Regions from separate parts of the Homo sapiens genome. Here all the other regions are reported to be linked to region 5. The links are microRNA targets in miRTarBase. Many come from high-throughput screens and were not tested one by one. Region 5 holds a microRNA gene; each other region holds the end of a gene's coding sequence. Distances are between the middles of the regions.
What was found. Region 5 holds the annotated microRNA hsa-miR-4786-3p (UGAAGCCAGCUCUGGUCUGGGC, at 1,620-1,641, shown strand). A microRNA usually pairs through its seed, bases 2 to 8, with sites in the 3' UTR of a target mRNA and lowers its output. Matches are read on the target gene's strand: a 7mer-m8 pairs with bases 2 to 8, a 7mer-A1 pairs with bases 2 to 7 and ends in A, and an 8mer does both.

Region 1 (4,077 bases), not on the chromosome of region 5:
GGACATTTCTAATGGGAACATGTCTTTCAAAACATCTCCTGTAATCTCATTTTATAGATCCTGCAGCAAAAGACAGGAATTACATAAGGACACATATTAACAACTACCTTCCCAAATATTTTTTTCTCACAGCAACTACAGTGACCTTTACAAAATACAAATCTGATCAAGTCACTCCTCAACTTAAAATGTTTCAGTGGCTTCTCATTACTAAGGACAGAAGTCAAAGTAGCATATGCGAACCTCAAAGCCTTGCACAGTCTGTCCCCTGCTGCTCCCTCTAGCATCTCGCCTTCCGTTCTTGCCCTGCCAGCCATGATGGCATTTGACATTTTGAGGCACCTTGCTTCTTCTCACCATAGACCAGTTTCCTCTGCTTCAAAGACTCCACCCTAACATGACAACTGCATGAGTGATCTTATACTGCTTTTGGCAAAATATCGCTTTGTCATCTTTGTTCTTATGTGTGTAATGCCAGACTTTAAGTTTGGAACATTGGTTAGTAATCGACCATCCACTGTCTCATTGCACTTGCAGCAGCAGAATTGTTACCATGGTGACAAATATTGCCGTTAAAAATATTGGCTTTTATCTGATAGGGGTATTGACTTGATGCCCCAATTGATAACTCCCTCTGAGGAAGAGGCCTGTTGCTTTGAAATACATAGGTATTTATGCATCTATCTCTTGATGAAGTATCAAGATAGAAAAGGAAATGCAGAGAAAGTGCATGGCACAGCACGCTGTGGTGGGCAAGTCCCCATCTCTACTTTACTTAAATTGCATTTGGGTGGATAAACTATATTCATGCTGAAGAAGCCCTCAGACAGGGGAGGGTGTATAAAACAAGACTAGAAGAAAGACAAAAGATAAAGCCATAGTCTACACAATTATGAGATTAAACCGTTTGTAGCTAGGATAATTCAGACTCTGGCATAGCTGTAAACCTGGAACTCCAGACCAAAGGCTTTGAAAGGAGTTTCCTTTTATCTCTCTCCTCTACCCCACCTGCCAACCTTTCACATTCCCGGGTGGCTTTCCCAAAGGCCCTCTCAGACTTTAGAGTATGTGCCTCTCTCTCTTTCTCTCTCCTTCTACCTGTACCCACTGTTTCAAGAGTCAACTCCCAGAACATCTTAATCTCAGCCTCTATGGTATTTATCAAAAATCACAAGATGAGATTTTCCAGCCACCCACTAGAGCAACTGAGAAGGGATTCCCCTGATACTGACAAGCCACCGCTCCTCCCAGAATACGTCGCTTCTCACCTCCTCCATCTTGGCTACACATATTTGGTGTTCAGAAAAGGTCCCTAAGTTTTGCCGGAAACCCAACTTCTGTCCTCCAAGGTACTGCTGCTGCAGAGAATGAGCAAAGACTTGCAAGGCTGGGCAGGTGCTCCCCTCCTGGACTTACATGGCTCCCAGAATCATTTTTCTCAAATCCAAATTTTATTATTTGGTGTTAATAATTTAATGTTTTCCATGGACTCATTTTACAGGTTTTTTAAAAACGGAAAGACAATTTTTTTTTACAGTAAAGGTTTTTAAAATTTATAATCCCATTTCTAATGTAGTGTGATTTTTTTATTCTGGGAATTAACTTGCACACGAACACATAATTTACATCATGTTAGTACACAGCATTTTGGACTATTTTACTTCTTAATATATTTAAACATTTTTCCGTGTTTCTGAATACTTTTTATGTCACTTAGAATTTTTATTTCATGCTTATTGAAAGATCTTTCAGACTTAGATATTCTGTCATAAATCTGTCATGTGTATGTGTAAAAAGGAAAACATTGGTGAAATAAATTGATTAGGGCATTTCTAAGGCAGTGATAGTGACATGCAATTGACACCTTGCTGACAGATTTAAAAACAATCCTGATTTCAGAGATATTAAAATAAAGATACAGTAACAACACCCCATGAATACAACCTCTTCTTTAAGAAATAGAATAATCACTATTCTGTTGAAACTCCTTGTGTGTGCCCCTCAGATCAGACATCTCTCCCTTTATCCTATAGATAGTCACTATCCTTAATTTTGTGATTATCATTTCCTTGTTTTTCTCTATACTTTTAGCAAATATATATCCCATTGTTGAATCTTATTTTTGAGCTGTTCTACAAATTGAACTATATCATATATATTTTTGTGACTTGCTTTTAGTATCCCACATTATGTAAGATTTATCCATGCCAGCCACACATGGTGGCTCATGCCTGTGATCCCAGCACTTTGGGAGGCCGAGGAGGACGGATTGCTTGAGGTCAAGAATTCGAGACCAGCCTGGCCAACATGGCAAAACCTTGTCTCTAGTAAAAATACAAAAATTTAGCTGGGCATGGTGGTGCATGCCTGTAATCCCAGCTACTCCGGAGGTTGAGGCATGAGAATTACTGGAGCCTGGGCAGCCAAGGTTGCAGTGAGCCAAGATTATCCCACTGCACTCCAGCCTGGGCAACAAACTGAGACTCTGTCTCAAAAAAATAAAAAATAAACATTTATCAATGCTAACATGTATAGCTGCTATTCATTTTCACTATTGTAGATTATGCACTGTAGTCCATTCCACAATTTATTAACTCTCCTGTTTGATGAACATTTGGGCAATTTCCAGGGTTTTGCTATTACAACTTGTTTTACTGTAAACATTCTCCTAGTTGTCTACTGGTAAGCATATGTGAGAATTTCTCCACTGTCTACACCTTGGAGGAAGACTTGTTAAGATTAGATCAAGAGTCAGCACACATTTTCTTAAAGGCCCAGATAATATTTTAGATTCTGTGGGCCATATGGTCTCCATTGCCACTACTCAGAGCTGTCATTTTTAGCGTGAAAGCAGCCATAGGCAATATGCAAAGGAAAGTCTGTGACTATGTTCCAATAAAACTTTATTTACAAATCCAGGCAGCTGGTAAGATTTGGACCTCAGAACATGATTTGCCAATTCCTGATCTAGAAGAATAGATTTCCTATTCTAATTGCCTACAAATACTGCTGTATTGCTCCTTCCTACCCTGAATATCCCCTGAGGGGATGTGAATCCTGTCTCTGCATAGGCTAAGAACTGGACTGAATGTCCATGTTCAGGGGCATTCAGGGAAAAGAGGAGAATGGGCGAGGGGACATGGTGGTGGCCATGCATCCCAGCTCTTAGTCTGTGGCTTTGACAGTCTCGGGGAAGCAAAAGGGATTGAGGCAAAGCTGAACACTCACGTTGGCTCTGCTGGCCGTGGGCGGGTGGTGGAGCTCTACTTGCCTGGAGGCTGGGGTCTCCAGCTGTAGCATAGCCACCATCACAGAAGCCACTGTGAGGTCACCACCAGGCTATGGGCAGAAAAATTCAAGCAGGAGATTGTATTTCTTTTGGAGTTGTACGATTTCCTTTATTATTTGAACTGCAGTAAAGAAAGCTGGGATGGGCTCCTCTAGGGATACTTCCAGATCCCTGGGCGGTTGTAGCCCTGGCTCCTCTTTAAATGGATTTGGTTTCAAAGACGATCATCTCCGTCTTCTCGGATGTCATAGTGCCACTGATCATCTCCAGCTCCTGGCCACCCTGGGCTTTCTCCACTTTGGCCTCTATGTTTTGCTTCTCCACCATCTTAGCCACGATATCTACCTCTCTGTCATGTGATGTGACCCTTGTTTTTGAACCAGGAGTGGCCCTGAGGCTCCTTAAAAAAGAGCTGATCTTACTGGCTTTCTTTTGTAAAGCTCCTGTGCTAGATGCAGATTGGTTCTTCCCCAGTTCCTGAGTTGTTCTCGACTCCTTTTTGGTGGAGCTGTGGGTGGAGCTCTTGCGAGAGGAGCCATGTCGCTTGCCCCTTACGTTGCTGTACCCTTTTTCTTTTTTGTCATCTCTCGTGTTTTTATGGCCAGATGCGGACCGGTGGGAAGACGCTTTCTGATTCTTGTCCCCCGCTCTCCTGCGGTGACTTTCACCTGCCTTGCGGTGATGAGAACTTTTCCTACTGGGATGTCTGTCCTTCTTTTCTCTTCTTTCCTTGTTTTCATTCCAGACTTCAGCACTGGGCTGGGAAACTTTCTGGCTTCCATCTCGTT
Region 2 (4,077 bases), 110 Mb from region 5:
GTTTCCCTAGAGACTGCTTCTTACATAAATTCTGGGCCTTGCAGTTCTTTCAGCTGCAATCCCTTGTTAATATATAGGAGCCCTAAGTGATGTGGCAGTAAGATGTGGGGACAGCAGGGAGTGGTCTATAAACCCATGATCAGGGCCCAGTCTTGTTGTGAACCAGTGGTCCCTAGGCTGTGCCACTCACAAGTGCTTCTCAGCTTTTTTTTAATGTGAGTTGGAAGACTAAAGCAGACTGGAGGTGGATATTTTCCTTCCCTTGGGTTGGGTAGGCTCTGGTAGTTGCTCTGACTTTAAGCCTTTGTTAAAGAGGACAGGACGTTATGTGTGCATTTCAAAGTGGTTACACTTTCCTCCCCTTGCCAGAAGCTCCAGCAGATTTTTCTCTGATTTTCACCCAAGAACAAGATAGAATTCCTGGAGCTAAAACCCATGAGACTGTGGGGGCCCCTTAAGGCTATGTCCCCAGCATCTTTTCTCTCTTATGCTTACATGCCCAGGCTCTAGCAGTTAGTCAGTTACCCTTTAAGTTTTCCTACAGGTTGCTGGCTGCAGCAGCAGCTTCTGTGCCTGGCAAGCTGTAGCTCTGTATTTGCCTTTCCTTCTCATTTTCAGGGGAGTGGTTTGCCACGTGACCTCAATTTTCTGAGGAATCGAAGAGTTGTTGATTTTCCAGTTCGTTCAGCTTTTTTCTTGTTGTAAGGATGGAAGTGATGATTTTGAAGCTCTTTATGTGCCAGAACAAAAATTTTCATTGGTATGCTTACTAGTGATAATTATAAAAAACAAAGGTATGAATGAATGAATGAATGAGTGTGGCAGTAATTGCTGAAGACATGACCTCAGCCTTACATACAATCTCCCTGGATTAATTGAGCAAGCCAAAAAACAATGTCTTTTTTAGTTAAGAGGTCTGACTCTGTAGCCCAGGTTGGAGGGTACTGGCATGACCTCGGCTCACTGCAGCCTCAACCTCCTGGGCTCAGGCGATCCTCCAGCCTCAGCCTCCTTAGTAGCTGGGACTGAAGCTGCCGCCTCACCCAGCTGGGTTCTCCTTTCCACCGGACATGTGTTTGTGTGCTGGCACGAAGGCATCATTGAAGTTTGAAGTTGGTTTTCTGCTGGGGGAGTGGAGTCAAGCCCGGACTGTCCCAGTGAGAAAACGGGAACCCTGACTACTGGACAAAACAAAGCAGCAGCAAGAGAGAAAGGTAAATTTTTCCAGAGTGCTATGCTCCCAGTAGACTTCCTAGGACTTCCTATCCCTGCCTTGCAGAGGCAGCTCACGGACCCGAGGTGGCTCCTGCCAACCTGAGCAAGTGCGCTGGAGCGTGATGGAGGCCAGTGGGGATCTGCCTTCTGCTGGGGGTTCCACAGCAACACATTTTGAATATTTTCAATGTTATCGGGCATTTCACTACTTCTAATATTCACATCTGCGATGTATATAGCATCTAATATACTCAGTAAGCTATTGATGGTCAAAACAACTAGCTAATGTCATGATGAAAATGGTCACTGCCATCAAAACACACAGCGATGGGGCCCGGATCTCCCTGGGCCTGTTTCTCCAAGTTCAAGTGAAGAGGAAATACCCAATCTGGCCTGGAGCGTTCTAGTGGCGAAAAGTCAAAGTTCTTCTGGCGAACATTTTCAAGTTGAAAGAAAAAAATATACACCCGCAAAAAAAAAAAAAAAAGCCACTTTTGTTCCCATACCGGGAGTCGAACCCGGGCCACCTGGGTGAAAACCAGGAATCCTAACCGCTAGACCATATGGGAACTGCTGAAAGGTGACGCCACCGTGTCTGTATACGTGACATGCGTCAGCTTCACCGCCAGCGCCTCCCAACTACCACTGCGCAGCACTGAGCTCCTGCTGTCCCTGTAGAAACTCGTATGACTGCAGCCGTGCCAGACTCGCTGCATGAACCCAGTCTCTCGACTTAGCCCTGGTGGGACAAGCCACTTCCCCACAGAAGCCAGAATCCCCTTTCCTGGCGGTCTCCCCAAGAGCTGGAGTTAGGGCAGAAGGTCAGGGCAGCAAGTTAAGGATGCTTTGCTAAAGATTTGCTGTCTTCATCCAACCCTATTTGCAGAGCCCATGGCCTCGCCCTGATAGGAGGATGGCCACCTGTGAGTCCAGCCCCAAGCCAGCAGTGGGAGGCACGTGCCCACCCCAGTGTCCGCCCACAATCAGCAGCGAAGGGCGTGCTCCACGGGGTCGCACCTCCTCCTGGAAGAATTTGTGGCCCCAGCAAAATTGACTTATTTTTTTCCTTACTTTGGCTTCAGAATCTCACTAACTGGAACCTTGTGGATAGGATCTTTGTTACAAAAGGCAACCTTTGGTGAGGTTTGGGGGCAGATACCCGTTTTTCCTGCAGTCACAGGGGTTCCATTTGAGTTCCCCCATTAGTCTTTTCCCTGGCAACTCAAGGTCAACAGGGCCAATAAACGACCCCTCAACCCAACGCGAATCTGCCATACAGGGATTATGTTAAAGTTCAAGAAGTAAAACAATGTGGTACTGGTGTATTGACAGTAATGTCCACGAAACAGAATGAAAACCCCCAAATTACATTAGGTTTACACTGGGAGTTAGCAAAACAAAAGGGCAGCATTAACCGACATACAGCACGTGGGAGGATGGTGGAAAAGCTGGACATGACTCACTGGACATTTCAACTGAAACCACAGAGGTTCTTGAAAATGCTGGAGAATTCCCTGATTGCCTTATCAGTTACAAACCCAAATTCAGAATCATGTGACAGCTGGATACATTCAACTGTACGTACAAATAATGATCAAAAAACACAAAAGTTGGGTAGTGGTTACCATAGCTTTTACTGTAGTTATTCATTAAGCTATTCAACTGTTCTGTGCAGTTTGATGTTTTATTTTACAATAAAAAGTCAAAAAAAATAAGCAAAAAGATAAACTGGAAAATAAGACTTACATCTCATATATATGGACAAAGGACCAATTACCTCCAAACATAAACAGCTCCTAGAAATTACTGCAAAGATCAACAACCCAGTAGAAAAATGAATGAAGTTCCCAGAACAGAAAACACAAGTGGCCCTTCAAAAAAATGAAGAGAGGCTCAGCCTCTTATGGTAAGACAAAGAGACAGGATTTTAAAAACCTAGGCCTCTTCCTAGAGTTCCCTTAAATATCTAGGCCAGATCATTTTTACTTCCTGGCTTAGACCCTGCCAAGGGCTGCCCAGCTACTCAGGTGTTTGTGTCCTTGTGGACTCAAGTCATATTGTCCTGATCTTTTGGCTGAGTACGGTTTTCTCCTCCAGCAAAGACAATTTGGAGGATGTACTAAGCATGAAGCGCTACTTCCTGGCCCCCATCTCTCTTCGCACAGTGTTCCATCATCCAGCCATGAAAGCACAGCTGAGTGATCCAAGAGGCAGTTCCAATTGTTGACTAACGTGTACCTGCCTATGTGAGTGTGTCCTATGGGAACTCAGGCCTTAGAATGGTTTCAAAGTAGTGGCTTTCAAAATTACTGTTTGCCTCTTCAAACTTCACACCTAAGGAAAATGGAAACATGCAGAGCAGGGACACAGAAGGGGCATTAGCTGGCGTGGGGTAGGGGCAAGAGCTAATTGTGAAGGAAGAAGGCCTGAGATCACGTAGCCATGTCGGAGAACAGCTGTGCTCGCTGCCCTGCCTCTTTGCGCGCATGTCAGGCAGCCCCAGGCTCCAGCTGCTTGAGTTTCTCTTGGAGTCCCCGGAGCTGGCTTCGACCCCAGTCAATGCGGTTCTGGAGGCTGGCTATGTCTGCGGCCAGCTGCAGGCCTGGAGGAAAGGAGAGAAGGTCACCATGGTATCTGTAGTGTAACACACGACCCAGGAGGATCTGGATATCCCCAGAAATTGGAAAGGCTTCAGGCCTCTCTGCCCCCCACACTTGTCCCAAAACATTCCAGGTACGGCCCTGCATTGGCTGCTCCAGAACCTCTGAGGCCTTACACCTCCTTCAGGTCTTTGCTAAAATGTCACCTCCTTAGACTTCCTGGACCCATTATATCACCCACCAGGAACTAAAAATTCACAGA
Region 3 (4,072 bases), not on the chromosome of region 5:
TGGGGAATCCCCCTCCCCAATTAATTAAGTTTAATTAAGGTGAGTCTAAGTTCAAAATGTAACTTAGTGGAATAGGAGTACAGTAGGAATATTTTATTCATACCTAATGGCAAATGTGTGAGACACTACTAAAATACTAAGTATTCAAATCAAGTAATTCCAGCAGCCACTCAAAAATTAATCCTTACCTGCTGTGGTCTTGTTAAACAGTATGAAAACTTATACAACAGAAACTAGTGCCAGACAAAATGTTTTCTTGTTTTTCTAAAAGGGGTGGATGTAAGGTAGAGCCAAAGTTGCCAGCCCTACTAACCTTACAGCTTCCTTAATTATGACAATCACAATGCCTGCCTGAATTATCAAGTCCCAAAAGTTGTCTTCTGTGAGGGCAGTTGGCATCCACTTTGACTCAACTTCATCTACTACTTAAGGAAGGTTGAGTCAGAGTTAATTATATGAATATAATTTGCTCCACTCATAATTCAACCACACTATGGACCCCAGAAGCATTTAGAAAAAAGGTATTTTCTAGAAGCTTAATTACGTTTGGATGCATGCAAAAATTACACTTCAAATATATTAAATGGGTACACCACCTCTGAGCCTATAGCTACAAACTCAGGAACTCATGAGCTTAAGTTTTATCTGCCAATGCCTAACACTTTCAATTAATTTTTAATTAGAATTCTATCCCATATTTAAAAGTTCCATTTTTGCCCATCAGACCTATACAGAGAGCAAAAAACCTTGCTACAAAGTATCAACCTTCTTTGCATAAAATGCAAATAAAGCTTCACATAATTTCTGAAACAGGTCTACTAACCCTATTGCAGTTTGTCAATAACCGTATACATGAAATTCCTGAGAATTTGGGAGAGCACCCCTTACTTAATTATTCTAAATTTAATCACAGCATTTTTTTTTTTTGAGACGGAGTCTCAATCTGTCGTCCAGGCTAGAGTGCAGTGGTGTGATCTCCGCTCACTGCAAGCTATGCCTCCCGGGTTCACGCCATTCTCCTGCCTCGGTCTCCAGAGTAGTTGGGACTACAGGCATCCGCAACTACGCCCAGCTAATTTTTTGTATTTTTAGTAGAAACGGGGTTTCACCGTGTTAGCCAGGATGGTCTCCATCTCCTGACCTCATGATCCACCCGCCTGGGCCTCCCAAAGTGCTGGGATTACAGGCGTGAGCCACTGCGCCCGGCCTATCACACCATTTTTATCTTAAAGACTTTCAACACAAGTTTTCCTTCAGCAGTATATTAAGTGTGCTGCCAAATCAAAGCAGCATGTATTAATTTTGAAACCATTTAGGTAAGCAGAGGTTCAGAGGGGAAAGTGGTTTGGGACTTGGCTGCTGGCAGAAAGAAATACATTACTGGCAAAATACCTGTTTTATTTTCAAACTATGAAAATTTTTGTACCACTATGGTACCACAAGCACAGGAGCCAAAATCATTGAAGCCAGATAATCAGATATTTTAATTTATTTTTTGACAGAGTCTCGCTCTGTTGCCCAGGCTGGAGTGAACATAGCTCACCGCAGCCTCGGAAGGAGGAAGAACCTCCTTCCTCAGCCTCTTGAGCAGCTGGGACCACAGACACACACTAACGCGCCTGGCTAATTTTTAAATGTTTTGTACAGATGGGGTTTTGCCATGTTGGCCAGGCTGGTCTCAAACTCCTGGACTCAAGCAATCCTCCCATCTCAGCCTTCCAGAGGGCTGGGATTACAGGCGTGAGCCACTGCACCCAGCCAATGTGAGTTAAAATAGCATTCAGCTTTATAATACTTGCAATGTTTTGCTTAAAGGTATGACTTTCATCTGTCACATAAATACGAACTCTTTTGTGATGGCTAAATCACTTTTCAATATATTTTCCTTCAAAGTTAAAGCCCTTTTTTCCATACAACTTCAGACTTCATGTGTTTTATCTATACCTTCACAGGAAAGTTATAAAGAAATGTTACCATTTTCTTAGAAGTCTTAACTTTATAATGAGAAAAACTCAACTTGAGTTCATTATATTAATACTTTGCATAGGTTATTTGATGCCTAAAAAATCATAAAACTACCCTGCAAAAGATCAGAAAAACAGATCCCAAAAAGGTCAACAAGAGCTATTATTTTAAGAGGTTGCAACACAAAATATTGAATAGCAGTCATCTCTACAGAAAAGCTCTCTGTAAGAACACAACATTCAAAATTTCCAAGGATAAATAAAAAGTTGCACAGTAAGGCTACCTAGGCTTAATAACAGAAGGTACTCAAATGAATAATGTAATCTTCCAGGAACATAATAAAAATTGCCAATTCATCTGTTAACCATCCCAACAGAGACACATTTAGATTCTCAGCATTACACTTAGAATAATATATAATAACCCATTAACAGCACAAGAAGCTATTACTGCATGCACCTAAGCTTCTAGAAGTTTGCACCTGAAAAGCTTCTGAGGTCCATGCAGTACTGAGTCTCAAAAATAATCAAAAGGAAATGAATGGGTCTGGCACTAGGCTCTAAACATCTCAGCAGGAAGGAAAAGTGTTAACATTTACATTTTAAGTATCTATGACACGTGATGTGTACTGACACCATAGAGGGTGGAAGGGTGATTATAAAGATTTCATACCCATTATGTAATGACTCATGTATCTTAAGTTTTTCTCTTAACTGAAACATTAACATACAACTCTATGCAAATTCAGTTTAAAACATGCAGCTAAGAAATAACCTACAACTCAAAGACAGAATCCAATGATATATCAAAACTGCATTGGTAACTATGAATTTTATTATGTGGACATCTACTGTGGCATGCATCTGTACAAACCTTTCAGGCAGTGGTCCACAGCTGGGTTATGAATAAAAAGGCATAAATTTTTCTCTCATTTTATTACAATGAAGTTTAACAGTACAGAAAAGTCACATGACCTTGGTGGGTCAGATTTCTTAAACCCTGCAACATGAGGAACTCTAAATACATTAAATATTGTTACACATTCAGACTTCCAATGTACAAGTACTTGGAAACAGTTACAGCCCTCACCAAGCTAGGTTGGGGACATGAAGTCCAACAGCATCTGAAATGCTGTGAAGGCAAACTTTACAAATAGCAATGTAAGCTTACAGAACTTGCCTTTACTAGGGTGGTATGTTCATGTAATTCCAGCGCCTTCACAATTTAACGAACCAAATTTACTATACTTCACTTCTAAAAACCTAGATGAAACATGAAAAAGAAGCCATACAGTATAAATTGCAACTTCAGGAAAAGTTCCTGCTTTATTATTCCAAATAATTTTTCCCATGTAAAATAAATGTCCAATAGTTCCTGGTATGTGGGAAGATAATGTTTGTTAAAGTCACAATGAAGCCTTATTGACGGAAGCTTGGCTATATAAACAGCACAAGTTGAGAAAAGGTTTAATCTCCAAACCTATTAGACTGGATGAAGTAAGATCAGTAACGGCCACCTTGCGACATTACAGGAGGTCTCATTCCCATCGGAGGTCGAGGAGGCCCACCCTGGTAAGGGGGCACCATTGGCGGTCCCTGCCCATACGGGGGCATAGCACCAGGAAGGTATCCTGGCATGCCTTGATGATGACCACCATACTGACCTAAAATCAAGAATTTCAAACACAAAAAAATAGATTGTTAACGCATTGTACTTTTAAGTGCAACGTATGCTGCAGATAAATTTAATATTTTATGCGTGAACTTAGAAAATCCACTAAATATGAAAAACATAAAAAGAGGAATACCATGAGGTGGCATTGGGGGTCTCATTCCTTGTTGCTGTGGGATGCCTGGCTGTGGTGGCATCATACCTCCAATTGGTCCAACTGGTGGATTACCGATGGGGGCCTGTCCTGGCCGAGGAAGATTACGTTGATACTTAGGTAACTGTGCCCTTCTCTCTTCCTGGGAATAAAAATAAGCGCAGGGCTAAATACTCGAATGCAGAGGCTCACCAAGCATAAAGGCATGCATCTAAAATCTTACAACGTTAAGAGTAATTTTCAAAAATTTACCCTTACATCCCAACTATTTACTTTTGCCAG
Region 4 (4,077 bases), not on the chromosome of region 5:
TGCCCCCCGTGCCGGAGCGCAGGAGCAGTCCGGTGCCCCCCGTGCCGGAGCGCAGGGGCAGCCTCACCCTTACCATCTCCGGGGAGTCCCCGAAGGCCGGGCCCGCGGAGGAGGGGCCGAGCGGCCCCATGGAAGTCCTGCGCAAAGGCTCCTTGCGTCTTAGGCAGCTGCTGAGCCCCAAGGGCGAGCGGCGCATGGAGGATGAGGGTGGCTTCCCAGTGCCGCAGGAGAACGGCCAACCCGAGAGCCCGCGGCGTCTGTCACTGGGCCAGGGTGACAGCACGGAGGCTGCCACAGAAGAGCGGGGTCCGCGGGCGCGCCTGTCCTCAGCCACGGCCAACGCCTTGTACAGCAGCAACCTTCGGGATGACACGAAGGCCATTCTGGAGCAGATCAGTGCCCACGGCCAGAAGCACCGTGCGGTCCCTGCCCCGAGCCCCGGCCCGACCCACAACAGCCCCGAGCTAGGCCGTCCACCGGCTGCTGGCGTCCTGGCCCCAGATATGTCCGACAAGGACAAGTGTTCAGCCATCTTCCGCTCGGACAGCTTGGGGACCCAGGGCCGGCTGAGCCGCACGCTGCCAGCCAGCGCGGAGGAGCGCGATCGGCTGCTGCGCCGCATGGAGAGCATGCGCAAGGAGAAGCGCGTGTACAGCCGCTTCGAGGTCTTCTGCAAGAAAGAGGAGGCCAGCAGCCCTGGGGCAGGGGAAGGCCCCGCGGAGGAGGGCACCAGGGACAGCAAGGTGGGCAAGTTCGTGCCCAAGATCCTGGGCACGTTCAAAAGCAAGAAGTGAGTCTTCTGGCCTGGCAACCCAGGCCAGGGTGCCCGCATCGCTGCCCCGGTCATCCAGAAGCCCCGCGGAACAGAGAGCCCTGCTCATCTGCTTGAGCAGCGGCTGTCAGGCCACGGCCGCTTGGGGCTTGGCTGAGTGCGCCAGACCTCGGCTCCACTGGAGGCTCACCTGGCAGCTGCCGTCTCTGCCCCCTGGCCTCCCCAACGCTGGGGCTGCACCCCTCGCCACCAGTGCCTTTCTCCCCTCAGCACCTTCATCTCTGCACCGTCAGCCTTGCGTGGCGCAGCGTCTGGCTCCGCCATCTCTTTGTGCCTCAGTCCCCCCCGCCCCCTTTATTTTTTTGAGACCTAGGGCTGGAGTGCAGTTGAGCGGTCTGGGCTCACTGCAACCTCTGCCTCCCGGGTTCCAGCGATTCTCCTGCCTCAGCCTCCTGAGTAGCTGGGATTACAGATGTATGCTACCACGCCCAGGTAGTTTTTGTATTTTTAGTAGAGACAGGGTTTCACTATGTTGGCCAGGCTGGTCTCCAACTCCTGGCCTCAAATGATCAGCCCGCTTCAGCCTCCCAAAGTGGGGGGATTACAGGCGTGAGCCTTGCACCCCGCTAAGTCCCCTATCCTCTTGCAAGGGTCTCGCCTCTGTGCCTCAATTCCTCATTCTCTGGGCCCTTCTCCTCCTCAGGGCCTCCTGTTCTCAGGGCCTCCCCCCTCCCCGCTCCCTCCCTCTCTCAAGGTCTCCTCCTTCCCTCCCCCCCCCCCCCCCCCGTCTCCCCCCTCCCCCGCCTGGGCTTCACTTCCTTTCCTACTTGGATTCTCCTGCTCGCTGCCTCCCAGCATCTTTTTTGGAGGCCCGTCTCTTGCTGTGGGGAAGACTGGGCTGGCTGCGGGCAGTTTGCAAGGGGTGGGTGGGGCAGGGGGGGGGGAGCTGGACCAGAAGATGCCCCTTGGAGTGGCAAGGAAGCTGGACAGGGCAGGCCTCTGGGGACGGGACACAGGGAAGCCCGAAGGGGCGCCTTGGCCAGGTCTGCCATCTCCTCCAGCGAGGCTCTGGCCAGCACTGGGTGAGAGTGGGGAGGGGGCATTGGCCTTTGCAGCACAGTAAAACATGGTCCAGACAACCTGTGGCCCCGGCCTCATGAGCACCCCCTGCACAGGCCCGGCCCAAGCCAGGCGCTAGAAGGGCTGGTTGTGGAGTGCTTATCCTTGACAGGTATGGGGCCAGGTGAGGGCAGGGGACAAGGTGCAGCTGAGGCCGAGCCCAACTAGGTCCTGGGCACCCCTGCAGGTGGGAGTGGTCCTTGTCCTCCTGGTATCCAGCAGACACCCCCCTCTCCCCACCAGCCCCATTCTCAGGTCCTTTCCTCTTTGTCACCAACACCAAGAATCTGTCCAGGGTTCTTGGCTTATCTTTTATCTCTTTTCACTCCTAGAGAGGAATTGCAATTGACTCAGAATGACACATTTTGGCACCACGTGTGTAGAAAGCCCCCACTGTTAGATGATAGCCTCGTGAAATTCATGTTTCTGTATTCTCCTATTTCTTTTCAAAAACTAATTTTTTTTTTAGTGTAATAAATCCTAAGAGGGAACTGATTTAAGAAACAAGGCCGCCAAACAAAGGCAGCAGTTCCGACTCCAGCAGCTGGGAAAGGAAGGAAAGTGACCCCACTTTCACTCCTGCACAGCCCACTGGTTACCAAAACCACCGTGCAAGTCGGGATGACAGCAGGGACTTCTGGCCAGGTGGGAAAGGTGCCTGGAAGCGGGATGCGCCTGTGCGTCTCTTGGCCATGATGTTCTTGTGGGCATGTTATTCTTGGTGCTGCCTGGGGTGTTGCTGAGCGGACAGGCTCTCCAGCTGGAGTCCATGGAGAGGCCAGAGGCTGGCGGCCCTGCCTGGGCCTTCGGAGCCTCCTGCCTGCACCCTCCACCTCTTCTAAACCATGATGTGGCACATTTTGGTGTTAATAAAACACAACACACAAAGTATTCTAGCATGTTCCCCAGTGTGTATAATCGCCCAGTTACATCCTGCAGCCTTTAACCACGTGGCCTCCCAGATTTCCCCTGTGGACCCACCACCCACCCCTGTGGGGGGCACTAAAGACCCCCCAGCTCCACTTCCAAGGCCCACCTTGGCCTCCCCAACTTCACGCTGCTCTCCTGTCCCTGTCCCCGATGCCCCCTGTGCAGGCACACTCCTGGGTGCCCACCTGCGATTCCCCACTCAGCAGCCCCACCACACACTGCCCAGCCTGAGGCCAAGCCTCCAACCCTGCAGCCCCGTGGCCTCTCTGCAGCTTCCTCTCCCACAGCCTCTCTGTCCTGCTTGTTCAGCACCCTGGGCCTGCGCCTTGGGCTTTTGAAGCTCAACAAGCACCTCCCTCGGCAGCCCCCTCAGGAAACAGCCCCTGGGCTGGGTCTCTGACTGGCTCACCGCTTCCTCGGGCCCTCCCGATCCCTCCTCCGCCTCCTCCAACCTTCTCCCAAACCCAGCCTCCCTTTCTGAGTCTCTTGCAGGTGCCTGGTCCAGCACCAGGGCAGCGCCAGCTCTCACCTTCTGCTCAGCTCCCCCACCCACATCTTGTCCTTCCCCGCCCTCCCCCATGGTGGCAATGGCTTCCACAACCCAGCAGCGCCCCTCTCCTGGCAGCCCAACACCGACCACAGCACAGGCCGCACCCTTCAAACTGTGAGCTCCTCCGGCCTATGAGCTTCCCAGACTGTGAGCCTGGCAGCCCAACTCCGCCACCGACAGCACAGGCCGCGCCCTTTAGACTGTGAGCTCCTCCAGCCTGTGAGCTTTCCAGCTGCCTCCTTGTGTTCCAACCCCAACCCATGGGCAGGTGCAGCTGAGGACACCTGGCACCCTAGGACACAGGTCTGTGCCCACAGGGCCCCTTTGATCTTTGCAGCCCTGCACAGCCCTGGCCTGAACTCACACCAGGGACCTTGCCTGGGGGTGACAAGAGGAGGTAACCCTGACCTCGCGAGATGTCTGTCTCCCACCCTCACCTACGGAGACCTGAAGACAGATCAGGTGCAGTGGCCATACTAGGGGGCGCAGGCTGCAGTCCCTGACAGCAGGGGGAGGGGTGTCCCCCTTCTCTCTCCCCTTCTCTCCTCTGGCTCAGAGTCACAAACATGGCCAGGGGGTGACCCTACATCCCTACCCCACAGGACCACCCTGGGGGGCAGCCTGGACCCTGAAGCCACAGCAGGTAAGGAAATGATGGACAAAGAACAAGAAGCTGCCCCAGGCAAACCTGGAGGGAAAAGCCCAG
Region 5 (4,077 bases):
TTTGATTTTGTTTCCTTGGAAGACCTGGAGTTTTTGTCGGTTCTGAGTCATTTTTCTTGATCCGCGCTGCCAGTTCCATGAAGAAAATCACTTTCAAACAGATGTGGAGGAAAGTGCACCTCCTCACTTGTCCAGACCCGGCCTGAATTCACATGGAAAGGTAATCATTTCCCGCCATGAGCTCACTGAGAGTCTGACAGCACTGTGAGGGGAGGTGGCCAGCCAGGCACCCAGCCTGAGCCGTGACCAGAGGTCCGAGCCAGAGATGCAGCCTTGGGATCTCAGCCTGCGGCGCTGGCCCTGGGGCCACACTCAGCATGGGGGACGCCAGGCTGGAGCAGACGCCAGACCCAAACAGCCGCTCTGCCCCCGGGGACTTTGGCAAGGCTGCTGCCTACGTGAAATGATGGAAAGGTCTAGGCTGGCCCCAGGTCCTTTCTGGCATGGCCTCAGGATCTTGGCAGGAGGATAACAATGCCAGGAGGGGGTGGGCTGAGTCATGTGCCTCCTCTCAGGGGCCTGGCTGCAGTGGTCAGGGGCAGGGTGGCTCATTTTGCGGGCACCGGTGCCCTGCACCTGGAGGAGGACCAGCAACAGGACTAGCCAGGTGGCCGCAGGCCCTTAGGACACAGGGGAGGCCCAGGATTTATGGGAAGGAAGGAGCAGAGCACCTGAGTCTGGGGACATCTCGGGACAGGCACTGCCCCCAGCAGCCTCAGCTTCCCCCCATAAAAGGGACAGACGCTGCCCCATGCCTTTAGCTCCATCACTGTCCAGGGACAGGGACTAAACCCTAGACCCCTCATCCCCAAGGAGTCTTGGACTGCAGGTCCAGCTCTGCAGAGGGGCTGCAGGGAGCATCCAGGGCCCATACTCGTCTGCTCATCTCTCAGTCTCTGTGTTTATGGAACACCAGGGGATGCCAGTGCTGTGCCAGGAGGGGCGGTCGGTGCTGAGTGAGGCCTGCTTCCCAAATCAGGCACATTCTTATGAGACTAAGATTTGTCCCTGCTCATGGACATTAAAAAAATGTCAAAGACAGCAGGATTAAGCGGAATCACAGTGTCCTGCCCCCAGTCCCTAACAGAATAGAAAGGAAAAACTAGAAAAATAATCCCAGCAGAAAACAAACAAGGCCATACACTTTGAAAATTTGTAGCCAAAGACCAGGTGTAGTGGCTCACGCCTGTAATCCCAACACTTTGGGAGGCTGAGGCGGGAGGATCACTTGAGCCCAGGAAATTGGGGCTGCAGTGAGCTCTGATTGCGCCACTGCACTCCATCCAGCCTGTGTGGCACTGTGAGACCCCATCTCAAAAAAAAAGAAAGAAAAATTAGTAGCCAATAAAATAAGCAAAAGATTTCAGAGTAGAGCAGAAGGCAGATTCGTGTGGCTCTGACCTGCCACCAAGCCTGAGTCCCACTGGTACACAAGCGGAGCCCCAGGCCGCCTCTGTGCTTGGGATCTGGAGACAGGGAGTCTTGCAATGCCTCTGGCAGACATGGGAAGATAACTGTGAGTTGAAACTCTCCGTAAGAAGTGGAGGCTCCAGGGATGCGTTGGCCTGTGGGCATGGCCTGAGACCAGGACTGGATGCACCACTCTCCCTGTGATGAGGTGAAGCCAGCTCTGGTCTGGGCCATTTCACAGGATTCCAGAAGCAGGAGCAGAGCCTCAGCATTTGAACGAACCTTCTTCCACTTCGGCTGAGCTCCTCCTGCCACCACCATCCTTGCAGGCTTCCCGAAGGTGGCCTGAACACAAACTGCCTGGGCTTCCTGTGGCTAAGAGGGGAAGACGAGCCTTTGCCAGGTTTTGTGGAAAGAGTTAAAACCCCTCCAGTGCTGTGTTAAAACATATGAGGACCCAGTCAGAGCTGCTCGGGCTTGAAGAGAATGGAAAGGCAGGGAAGGGGAGGGCAAGTGACAGGCAAACGTCCCACAGAGAAACCCGTGACTCAGTGCTGGAGAAGGGACCACAGCATGCGCAAGATAAACATGCGGAAGGCAGAGGACGCACAGCTCGTGAACAGAAAAAAAAAATATTCCTGTGCTTTGCCTAAGAGAACAGTTTGATAAGAACATGAATTCAATAAAATAAATGTCAACAACGTATAAGACTAAGAAATGAAAATAAGATGTCAGACCTCAGGAAGCAAACAGAACCGAAACAGTGTCAGAACCAAACCAATACATTTCAAACAGCAACAAACGACATAGCAAGGCTGAAATTGCTATTGACAGAAATCCATCGTTCTCCAAGTGTGGCTCCTGGACCAGCGGCCCCAGCCTCCACCTGGGAGCTTGTCGGAAATGCAGGTGTCTAGGCTGCACCCAGGCCTGCTGGCTCAGGCGCCCTGGTGGGTGGGCCCCAGCAGCATCTGTGTTTAGCAAGGTGATTGCAGCGCACACTACCGCGTGAACACCGCTGCCCTAGAGGAAAGGCTGAAGACAGCCACAGTAAGTAAAGGTAAACGTGGTAGAGGGATGAAAACTGTTGTGAACTTTGTATATGTAAAACTAATTTATAGGAAGGTGGACAAAGGCAGTCCGGCAAAAGAATCACTGGTGTTCAGACCAAAGTGATTCCAAGTGAAATAGTTTGTGCACACATGGTGTGATCTTTCAATATGCAGAATCCATTTGTTTTTCTCATTTCAGAGGATTTTAAAATCTAAGGTCCATACTGTTTTGGTGCAGAAAATTCACTAGTTTTACTTTCATTTGCTTATGTTGAAAACTGATATTAAAATAAATTAAATGTAATTTAAAATAGCATTGATAGATCCCATTTCATGAAAGCATACCTGTGTTTCTGTTGATATACAGGCATAAAAATATCAGGATGTTGTTCACTGATGTAGATGGTTTTTCTGAAGAGAGGAATTTGGAATTTTTTTTCCTTTCTTCCTTGAACCTTTTTTTCTTTTTTTTTTTTTGAGACAGAGTCTTACTCTGTTGCCCAGGCTGGAGTGCAGTGGTGCGATCTTGGCTCCCTGCAAGCTCCGCCTCTCAGGTTCAATCATTTTCCCACCTCAGCCTCCTGAGAAGCTGGGATTACAAACGTGCGCCATCATGCCCAGCTAATTTTTGTATTTTTAGTAGAGATGGAGTTTTACCATATTGGCCAGTCTGGTCTCCAACTCCCGACCTCAGGTGATCTGCCCGCCTTGGCCTTCCAAAGTGCTGGGATTATAGGTGTGAGCCACCACGTCCTTGAACTTTGTCGTTTTGATGTCGAGGAAGGAACCTCTGACACCGAGGGTGGAACAGCCGCAGTTCTGTGCCCCCGGTGCATTCACATCATCGGGCGTGGGAAGTGTCTGTCCCTGTTTGTGAAGATACTTTACCCTATGTGCCACTCCCATTGCCCTTGTCCAGGGAGGCCAGCATTCCCTGTGCTTGAGAGATCTTTTTGTTTGCATATGTTCTGACATAATGTGTTGTTTCGTGTGTTTGCATTTTTAAGGAACGTAAATGGTTATGGGTCATACGTCTATTGCCTGTGTGTTTTCACTCAACACTGCCTCTGTAAGCTCCTTCCTTGTTGCCGTGGGTGCATCTGGCTTGCCTGTTTCTGCACCTTGTAGTGACCTTGCTGCTGTCCAGTTTCGCTTACCCTTCCTGGGTGGTGGGTACCCAGACGGCCTGCAGTGCTGCAGGAAGAACCTCACACATGGAGAAGAATATCTGTGGTTCACAGAAAACTGTGCATTGCCTAGAGGACACTCCTCAAGGTTATTGGATTCTACTCTGTCATCATTTAGAACTATCTTATAACTCTGTTCCTTGTAGGTCACTGATAGCAGTACAAAAGAATTCATATAGACGGGAATGTTCTGTGCTGTATAGTGGAAATCCAGTGAATACCTCCCATCCCCAGGAGAGAGCCCGGTTTGCCTTCACTTGCATATTGATTTAAATATCTCTGATCTCTAAGTGTGGCTATTCTTTGGATTCTGTTTTGAACTGGTGATAACATCTGTCTGATACCTTCCTTGATAAGTGAATAGACTAAATTTCAAATGTGTTCCTTTTTATATTTCTATGAGAGTCATGATTTTACTTTTTTTCTGA
Region 6 (4,000 bases), not on the chromosome of region 5:
CCAGCTTTTTTTTTTTTTTTTTGAGACGGAGTCTCGCTCTGTCGCCCAGGCTGGAGTGCAGTGGCGCCATCTCGGCTCACTGCAAGCTCCGCCTCCCAGGTTCACGCCATTCTCCTGCCTCAGCCTCCCGAGTAGCTGGGACTACAGGCGCCCGCCACCACGCCCAGCTAATTTTTTGTATTTTTAGTAGAGACGCGGTTTCACCCTGTTAGCCAGGATGGTCTCGATCTCCTGACCTCATGATCCACCCGCCTCGGCCTCCCAAAGTGCTGGGATTACAGGTGTGAGCCACTGTGCCCGGCCCCAGCTAATTTTCTTGTTTTTGCAGAGACGAGTTTACACTGTATTACCCAGGCTGCTGTTGAACTCCTGGGCTCAAGAAATCCTCCTGCCTTGGCCTCTCAAAGTGCTGGGATTACAGGCATGAGCTACTGCAGTGGGCCCTTGGGATAATCCTTCAGAGGTGAATTATTCTACTGAAGATTCTGGCCAGGCACAGTGGCTCATACCTATAATCCCAGGACTTTGGGAGGCTGAGGTGGGTGGATTGCTTGAGCTCAGGAGTTCGAAACCAGCCTGGGCAACATGGTGAAACCTCTTCTCTACAAAAAATACAACAAAAATTAGCTGCGTGTGGTGGTGTGCACCTGTATTCCCAGCTACTGGGAGGGCTGAGGCAGGAGGAATGTTTGAGCCCCTGAGGTTGAGGCTGCAGTGAGCTATGATTGCATCACTGCACTCCAGCCTGGGGGACAGCGAGACCCTGTCTCAAACAAAACCACCACAAAGAAGAGATGCCAATATCTTAATGCCAGGATTATGAGGCATTTTCTTTTTTGCTCACTTCTATTTCTAGGTTTTCTACATAAATGTGTTACCTTTTGATAAGAAAACCATAGATGGCGTTACTACTGTTGCTCCCAAGTTGGGGAGAACCTCACAGCTGAGGGCGCTTGGCTCTCTGCTGCCCTCACTTGGCCTCTCCTCGCCAGGCCGGGGTAGGAGCTGAATGGGCTGCTGGAAGCCTGAGCCTCAGGTTTAAACATGATGTTCCCAACATCTTGAGGACCCGAGGTCAGTGAGCTCAGAGGCGTTTGTGGCTCCCGCTGCAGGAAGCTCCTGATGGGAAGCCGTCCCAGCCCTGCACCCTCATCTGCCCTCAGGGTCTGGTTCAGGTTGGTCCTGCCGGCCCCTGGGAGCCGGTCCCCCTGCTCACTGGCTGTGGTCCTCCTGCCCGCTGGGCACTGGGCCAGAATGACAGCCCACCTTGGTAGAGCTCCCTCTGCGTTGTGCTGTGGCTTAAGGGTCCCCATATCAGCCCCGGATGGCCGTCCTGTTACTCCCGTGTCAAACTGAAGCCAACAGAAATGCAGATCCCAGTCACCAGAAAGGTGACCCCAGAGCTTGTGCTGTGACACCCTGGCCATTCCCCATCCCCGCCGCCTCAGCATGGAGCCGTGCAGCAGCTCTAAGCCCTCTCTGAGGAAGACGAGGTCTTTTTCACAACCTGACCGTGGTCCCTGCAGCCAGGGGCAAGGACGGTCAGGGATGGCTGGTGGGCTCAGGCTTTTCTGAAGAGCTGAGCTGAGCATTTCCTGCCTGGACACCCTTCTCTGCGCAGCAAACTCTGGGGTGTCCTTCCGGCCCAGGCTCAGCCAGGCAGCGAGTCTCCTGTCCAAATCCCTAAGCCCCTCCAGGGACACTGTCTGGTCACACTGTGGCCACCCCAACCCGAGCCCCCCACTCCAGAACCCCCCGTTGAAGAGGAAAGAGAAAGTGGATGAGAGCCCCCTTAGCAGGGACCCTGCCCTACCTGGAAGGCCCGAGCTGCCCAAGCAAACGAATACAGACAGCCAGCAGGCATCATTCAAAGGCTGTATCTTTTTTGGTTTCCTTTTTTGCTTTTGTAAAGAAAAATAAGGTTGTGTTTTCTGTTTGAAACAAAACATAAAACCCCCTCCCGCTGGGCCTGTTCCCTGGCTCTGGGGGATGCTGGGACCGCAGGTCTGGGCAGGAGAGGCCAGGCTGCCCGGCTGAGAGGAGGGAGCGCCCTCAGAGCCAGAGATGGAGTGCATTTGGGAATGGAGTTTGATTAAGCAAAAAATAAAAAACCTCGACACACACACACACGCCTGCTATACAGAAATGGGGACCAAGAGGCGCTGCCTCCGAGTTGGAACCATTGCTGGCAGCTGGACTCAAAAGTCCTGATGCTGTCCTGGGGCCCCCATTCCCCACGTTTCAGGGGTAGGCAGGGCAGGAGGCGGCATCCACAGCTCTCAGGACAGGAGTCAGGGGAGAGGAGGGTGACGTCAGAGCAAGCTCCTTCCCCACATTAAAAAAAAAAGTATTAAAAAAGCACCCAAAGCTTAAAAAAAAGAATCCTCCATGGCAGGGAGAGTTGGGGGCATCCTGCTTACTAGCAAAATGCCTGACCTGGCAAAATGTGTAGAAAAATAAAATTAAACTTTATCCCTGAATGGCAGAGTGAAGACCCTTCTTCCCGCCCCACAGTGAGTCTCAGAATCCACCGAGACAGCTGATTCCTCCCCAACTGGCACCAGCACATGACCAGCAGACACACACTGCCCCAGGCCCGTGTCCCAGGCCCAGGGTGGGACAGCGGAGGGGCTCTGATAGCCACGGGTGCACGGTCCCTCCCCGCTGCCTCACAGCATTGGGAGCGCCCCTCCTCAGTGCCAGGAAGGAGCCCCAGCAGGGGAGTGGGCAAGAGAACCAGGGGAAGATGGGGTTCTCAGGGGCTCCTGGGCAGAACTAGGGGAAGATGGAGTTCTCAGGGGCTGGAGGCAGGTGCCCAGTAGGGTGGTCGAAGGGGTGCAGTCTCATCTGAGATCTGAAGGCCCCCCGCCAGCCTGCCCTGCAGTTCCATGTGCAGCTGAAGGACCAGACGTGCAGGCCTGGAAACACAGGGCGAGGTGGGCCAGGGCGCTCCGCATTCTCAGGGTAATGGGGCTGCTTCCAGGAAGGTCAACAGAGGTCACAAAGCAGGGCACATGGGGCAGGGGAGGGTGGGGCAGGGGCTCGCGCTGGTCCTGGAGGCCCAGCTGGGCCTTTGGCTGCTCAGACCTGGGAGCTCTGAGGATCCCGGGAGCCCTTCTGCCCACTCCACAGGAAGGGGCAAGATAGGGCAGATGATAAGGACCATGCTTCCCCCTCCCCCAGGGGGCCTTCAGCTTAGTGGGGCTCTGAGGTTGCCCCAGGTGAGACAGGGGAGTACAGTACAAAGATGTGACTACGCCTGTGGGCGTGGGGCCAGAAGGCAGGCCGGGCAGCTCCTGCTGCAGTTACAGTAGTACTGGCGTCCCTGCCAGGCAGGGCTGAACTGTGTGGGGCACCCCAGGGTCATGCAGCCCCTTGGGGCTCCCTGGCTTCGGGATCAGAGTGTCAGCACCAAACACAACCGATGTCAGCCAAGGAGGTGAGTGGGCAGAGAGTGTGACCTCAGACACATGCTCAGCCCTGCAGTCCGTTAGGTGAGGAGGGGCAGGTGTCCTGAGGACAGTCACAGTCCAGTGAGGTCAAGGCCCTGGAGATGAGGGCAGAGGTGGCAGCCCCTCCAGGGAGGGTCCTGAGGCCGGCAGTGGTGAAGCAGCAGGCACCGGGTTGCTCCCCTCCGAGGGGCTCCAACGGTGGGTCAGCGCAGGCTCTGGTACAGAAACACCGAGGTGAACAGGGCGTTGGCGGCCAAGCTCACGGCCAGGAGGCCCCGGACCAGGGAAGGGCCGAAACGACCTGCAAAGCAGAGACCTGGTCAGAACATTGTTTGGGTGGGTGGGTTCGCTGTGCAGCTGAGCAGCCCCCTAGAGCATGCAGTTTGTGGGGAGCTCAAGGCTCTGCCCAGGGTACTCTCTGAGACTGGTGAGGCTCACCCCCAATTCTTCTCTTGGCCAAAGGCTTCCCTAGCAGGAAAGACCCCCACTCCCTGCCTCCCTGAAGGCACAGCTTTTCCTAACCCTGAGCCGCCAGGAAGGCCATGGGC
Region 7 (4,077 bases), not on the chromosome of region 5:
TGGTGAAGGCAACCTGATAAAGGGTGCTGGAGTCCAAGGGGGAGTGGGAAGCACAGCTGCTTAGGGGCCGGGACACAAGAGACTGGTTACACACAAGAGGATTGAACAAATCAGTAAATACAGCAGATTCTTGAACAACATCATTTCATTGTCATGCTGAGGAGAGAAAGAATTCCCAACTGGGGCCCCATCTGGGTGGAGTTTGCACGTTCTCCCCTTGTCTGCGTGGGTTTCCTCCAGGTATTCTGGTTTCCTCCTACATCCCAAAGCTGGGCATGTTAGGTTATCTGATGTGCTGACGTCATGACATGGTCCCAGTTAGAGTGAGGGTGGGTGTATGTGAGTGGCCCTGCAATGGGATATGTCCTGTCCAGGGCTGGTTCCCACCCTGCACCCTTAAGTGCAGGAGAGGCTCTGACCATGTGTGACCCTGAACTGGGATAAGCAGGTTAAGAAAGGAATGAATGAATGCAAATTACTATAAAATAAAATGTTGTAGGGTCTATGGTCATAACACAAATGCTGTGGTACACAATTATGTGGTATGAAAGTGCTCCATGAGCCTGCCATATTTGTGACTATTTTTGAACACAAAAATAGTGTTCAAATAGCTGCATGATGGCAGCAGGTGCTCCTGACAATTTTTTCACTTTGCAACATTTATTCCTTGATTTAACACAGCACCACCACTACAACCACTATCACTCACTGACGCACCCAAAATTGGGTAGTATCTTAATTTTTTAAATTAATCTTTCCTAATATATGTAGAGCTCACATTTATTTCAATGTTTAGTATTCATGTTTTGGGGTCTTTACTTAGAAGATTAGTGATGTTTTTGTGACCAACAATATGTCATAGGAACGTTATGTTTTATTTGTATCATTTAGCCTATGCCAAATTGGTTCTGTTATATGTCATTTCACTTACAGTCAGATTCCAAAGCCTATCGACGGCATTAAATGAGTACTTAATATATATTCAGGATGAAGGGAGCCAGGTTGCTGTCAGAAAAGGAAGTTAAAAATACAGTTGACCCTTGAAGTGCTCAAAGAATAAGGGGGACAGGTCAGAAGGACACAAAGTCAGCTTGAAATGGCTACTACTGGCCAAGTCCAGGGGGCATCTGAACACCAAATTAGTAAGCTTTCCCTTCTCCCCCTATTTGTTCACTGATTTTGTTCTATTTATCAATATAGAAGGGATGAAGGAATAAGAAAGTCATCATTTGGCAACCATCATAATAATAATTGATTCAAGCACAAATCACCAATGAAATGCTTTATCTTGTGGGTGAAGTTCTGAGTAGTAGCCAGATATTTACAAAGCCTCAAAGTATCTTTATACAAGATATTTATGAAATACAAAGTATATAGTAGCTTAACCATGGACAAACATGGCAGGATGTTGACTTTGATTATTTCAACAAATCAAATAATCAAAGTCAACATTGGCCAGTAATGGAAGTGAGTGACAGCAGATGCCTCCAGATGCTGCATTGCAGAGAACTCAGCCTGTGTGAAAGCCCCGCCCGAATGGCACAACCTAAAGCTAATCATGAGGAAACACTGTACAAACCAAAATGGAGAGAACGCCTACAAAACAGCTGACCTATACTCTCCAAAAACATAAATGTCATTACAATCAAAGAAAGACTCAGGAACTATCCCAGATAAAAGGAGACTATAGAAACGGAACAATTGGACCAACACATCACACCTGGTGAAAATCCCCCATCTTGAATTTTCCTCGGCTATCAAGGATATTTTGGAGACAATTGGCAAAATCTGCGTAAGGTCTATAGATTAGATATTAACATTGAACCAGTGTTAATATCCTGATTTTGACCATTATACTACAGTTATGTAAGGTAATTCCTTTTATTTAGGAAATACACATTATTTAGAAATAAAGAGGCATCGTGTCTGCAACCTACAAACAGTTTAGAAAAAAAATCTGTATTAAGTACCTATATTCATATTCATCTAGAAAGACAGGAGGAGAAGGGGGAGAAAGGATAAAGTAAATGCAGTAAAATGTTAACATTTGGGGAATAATATCCAAAAATTATTTGTACTACCTCTTATAATCTTTCTGTAAGTCTGAAGTTGTCAAAATATAACATTTCTTAAAAGAAAAACAAATTTTTAATAACAATATTAATGAATTATAACTCACTGAATAAAATAAACCATGAATCCATGGTTTATTTGATACAAGCAAATGAATAAATTGAGGGTTCGATGGGGAGTAGAGATATGTACATAGTCTCAAATTACCTCCCTGTAAAATACTAATTAACCACAAGGTGAAAAAATAACATTACAGAGGAGAAATTCAGCAGATACCACTGTTAGTGATCAATGCTAACATTACCAGTAACAGGGCAAATCAAAACTGTAGGGTCACAGGTAAGATGCAATGAGAAGATCACTGGGTCACTTCTGTGATACTCCTGCCAAAAAATCATATAATCTAAATCTAATCACCATGAAACCCAATTGAGGGACATTCTTATATTACCAGACTTTACTCTTCAAAATATTCAAGGTCATGAAGGTCAAGGAAAGACTGAGGAACTGTTCCAGACTGAAAGATCTAACAGATACAACAACTAAATACAAGCCATGGATTAGAATGGGATCCTTTTGCTATAAAGGACATTACAGAGAAGTAACAAACTAGAATGTATTAATGTTGACTTTCTGATTGCAAGGTTTGCACTGTAGTTATGTAGAATGTCCTGACTTGTAGGAATGCCCACTAAAGTAATCAGGGGTGATGACATAATGTCAGCAATTTACTCTCAAATTGTTCGGAGGAGAAAGTCTTTGTACTAAAACTTCGAAATTTTCTCTAAACTGAAGGCTATTTCCAAAAGGTTAATTAAAAATAAATAAACAAACAGAAAAGGTGAATCAGGCAAATCTTGTTTCTCCCTGAGAACAGCTATATAAATCAGTGCTTAAAATTAAAATTATGTAAATTTGATGGCACTGTAACAATTGTAATACATCCAAACATGAACAATGACCACAGTTCCTGCACAACAAAATGATGTCTAAGTCCAATTAGACATCTACCACTACATATAGTGATAAAAATTACAAAATACAAATAAGCCATCAATTAACTGCACTAAAGTATTAATGACAACTTAGTGGTTTGGCTGTTTAAACAGCTCACATTTGGGCAGTTTGAGTATGTAAAACTCAATATTCCTGGTTTTCATTGGCAAAATCCACTTAAAAGTTAAAGAAGCCAAGTAACATTGTTTAAAATACTATATAAATTTTGATCTGACATATATGATACAAAAATACGTTCCTTTAATATTTTTACATGTCATATATTAATATTTAATGAGAAACAAAATGTCACATAAACAGCCCAGTAATAAAATCTTATCTTTCAGATCATATAATTTTTCTTTAAAACCTGTACATATTCTCTTGATGCTTTCCAAACTAGATCTTGATTTAGATTTGACTCATCAGTAGACCCTAGAGGGGAAGCTATTGATCCAGATTCCAATTCAGCAGCAGCTAGAATGAAAAAGAAAGAATTATATTCCTTACCTAAAAGATTTCATAGTTAACTAAGTGGAAGTCAGTAAAAGAGTTGAGAATTTTGTCAGTATTAATAAGAAAGAAAAATATGTATGCACAACTATTATACAATATTACTATTAAATATAATTTGCCCATGGTTGCACACTGAATTAATTATCCTTGTGGTTAAATATCAGAGCTTCTGGCTTTCTCACTCTTCATTCATTTATTCAACAACCATGAGCAAAGTAAGCACTAGAATTACAAGATGAAGATGATATGATCCACCTCTAACAAACATATGCTATAATCTGAAAAAAACAGACAAACATACAATTTCCATACAAAGTCACAGATATCATGACAGGTATAAGACAGGGCACTACTGGAACACACAGAAGGGACACCTATCCCAGTTCTGAGTCAATAACGTAGGCTTTTTGATGGAGGCAATATGTAGACTGATACCTGAAGTACAAGGAAAACATATGCCAGACGGAAGGAAGAAGCAAATGCCAAGAGCTG

Region 1: the mRNA of GARIN3 is a reported target of hsa-miR-4786-3p. Seed matches in the 3' UTR shown: 7mer-m8 at 3,314-3,320.
Region 2: miRTarBase lists VMA22 as a target of hsa-miR-4786-3p. The part of its 3' UTR that is shown has no 7-base or 8-base seed match.
Region 3: miRTarBase lists ZNF207 as a target of hsa-miR-4786-3p. Seed matches in the 3' UTR shown: 7mer-A1 at 3,377-3,383, 7mer-m8 at 3,247-3,253 and 8mer at 1,462-1,469.
Region 4: the mRNA of FAM83H is a reported target of hsa-miR-4786-3p. Seed matches in the 3' UTR shown: 7mer-A1 at 1,580-1,586.
Region 6: the mRNA of TMEM201 is a reported target of hsa-miR-4786-3p. The part of its 3' UTR that is shown has no 7-base or 8-base seed match.
Region 7: the mRNA of ANKRD26 is a reported target of hsa-miR-4786-3p. Seed matches in the 3' UTR shown: 7mer-m8 at 3,259-3,265.

The regions. Positions count from the first base shown.
Region 1 is chr5:157,158,960-157,163,036 of GRCh38, forward strand. GARIN3 (golgi associated RAB2 interactor family member 3) reads right to left here. Exons shown (of 2, transcript NM_130899.3): 2 at 2,887-4,077. The coding sequence ends at 3,488. Among named protein-coding and RNA genes, the nearest start is that of GARIN3, 5.3 kb to the right of the region's middle.
Region 2 is chr2:130,335,416-130,339,492 of GRCh38, forward strand. It overlaps VMA22 (vacuolar ATPase assembly factor VMA22), which reads right to left. Exons shown (of 5, transcript NM_032357.4): 5 at 2,518-3,817. The coding sequence ends at 3,705. It overlaps TRE-TTC1-1 (tRNA-Glu (anticodon TTC) 1-1), which reads right to left and starts at 1,784; the gene lies at 1,713-1,784. RefSeq lists an enhancer at 1,512-1,571.
Region 3 is chr17:32,369,155-32,373,226 of GRCh38, reverse strand. ZNF207 (zinc finger protein 207) reads right to left here. Exons shown (of 12, transcript NM_001098507.2): 11 at 3,773-3,932; 12 at 1-3,628. The coding sequence ends at 3,468. Among named protein-coding and RNA genes, the nearest start is that of ZNF207, 21 kb to the right of the region's middle.
Region 4 is chr8:143,722,638-143,726,714 of GRCh38, reverse strand. FAM83H (family with sequence similarity 83 member H) reads left to right here. Exons shown (of 5, transcript NM_198488.5): 5 at 1-2,782. The coding sequence ends at 794. Among named protein-coding and RNA genes, the nearest start is that of MAPK15, 8.3 kb to the right of the region's middle. RefSeq lists an enhancer at 3,091-3,592.
Region 5 is chr2:239,940,587-239,944,663 of GRCh38, reverse strand. It overlaps MIR4786 (microRNA 4786), which reads left to right and starts at 1,570; the gene lies at 1,570-1,649. It also overlaps a transcript of NDUFA10 not described here.
Region 6 is chr1:9,612,739-9,616,738 of GRCh38, reverse strand. It overlaps TMEM201 (transmembrane protein 201), which reads right to left. Exons shown (of 11, transcript NM_001130924.3): 11 at 1,862-3,753. The coding sequence ends at 3,656. It overlaps LOC124903837, which reads right to left and starts at 2,075. Exons shown (of 2, transcript XM_047436734.1): 1 at 1,267-2,075. The coding sequence starts at 2,075. RefSeq lists enhancers at 701-760, 770-1,314.
Region 7 is chr10:27,002,178-27,006,254 of GRCh38, forward strand. ANKRD26 (ankyrin repeat domain containing 26) reads right to left here. Exons shown (of 34, transcript NM_014915.3): 34 at 1,939-3,546. The coding sequence ends at 3,413. Among named protein-coding and RNA genes, the nearest start is that of FAM238C, 62 kb to the left of the region's middle.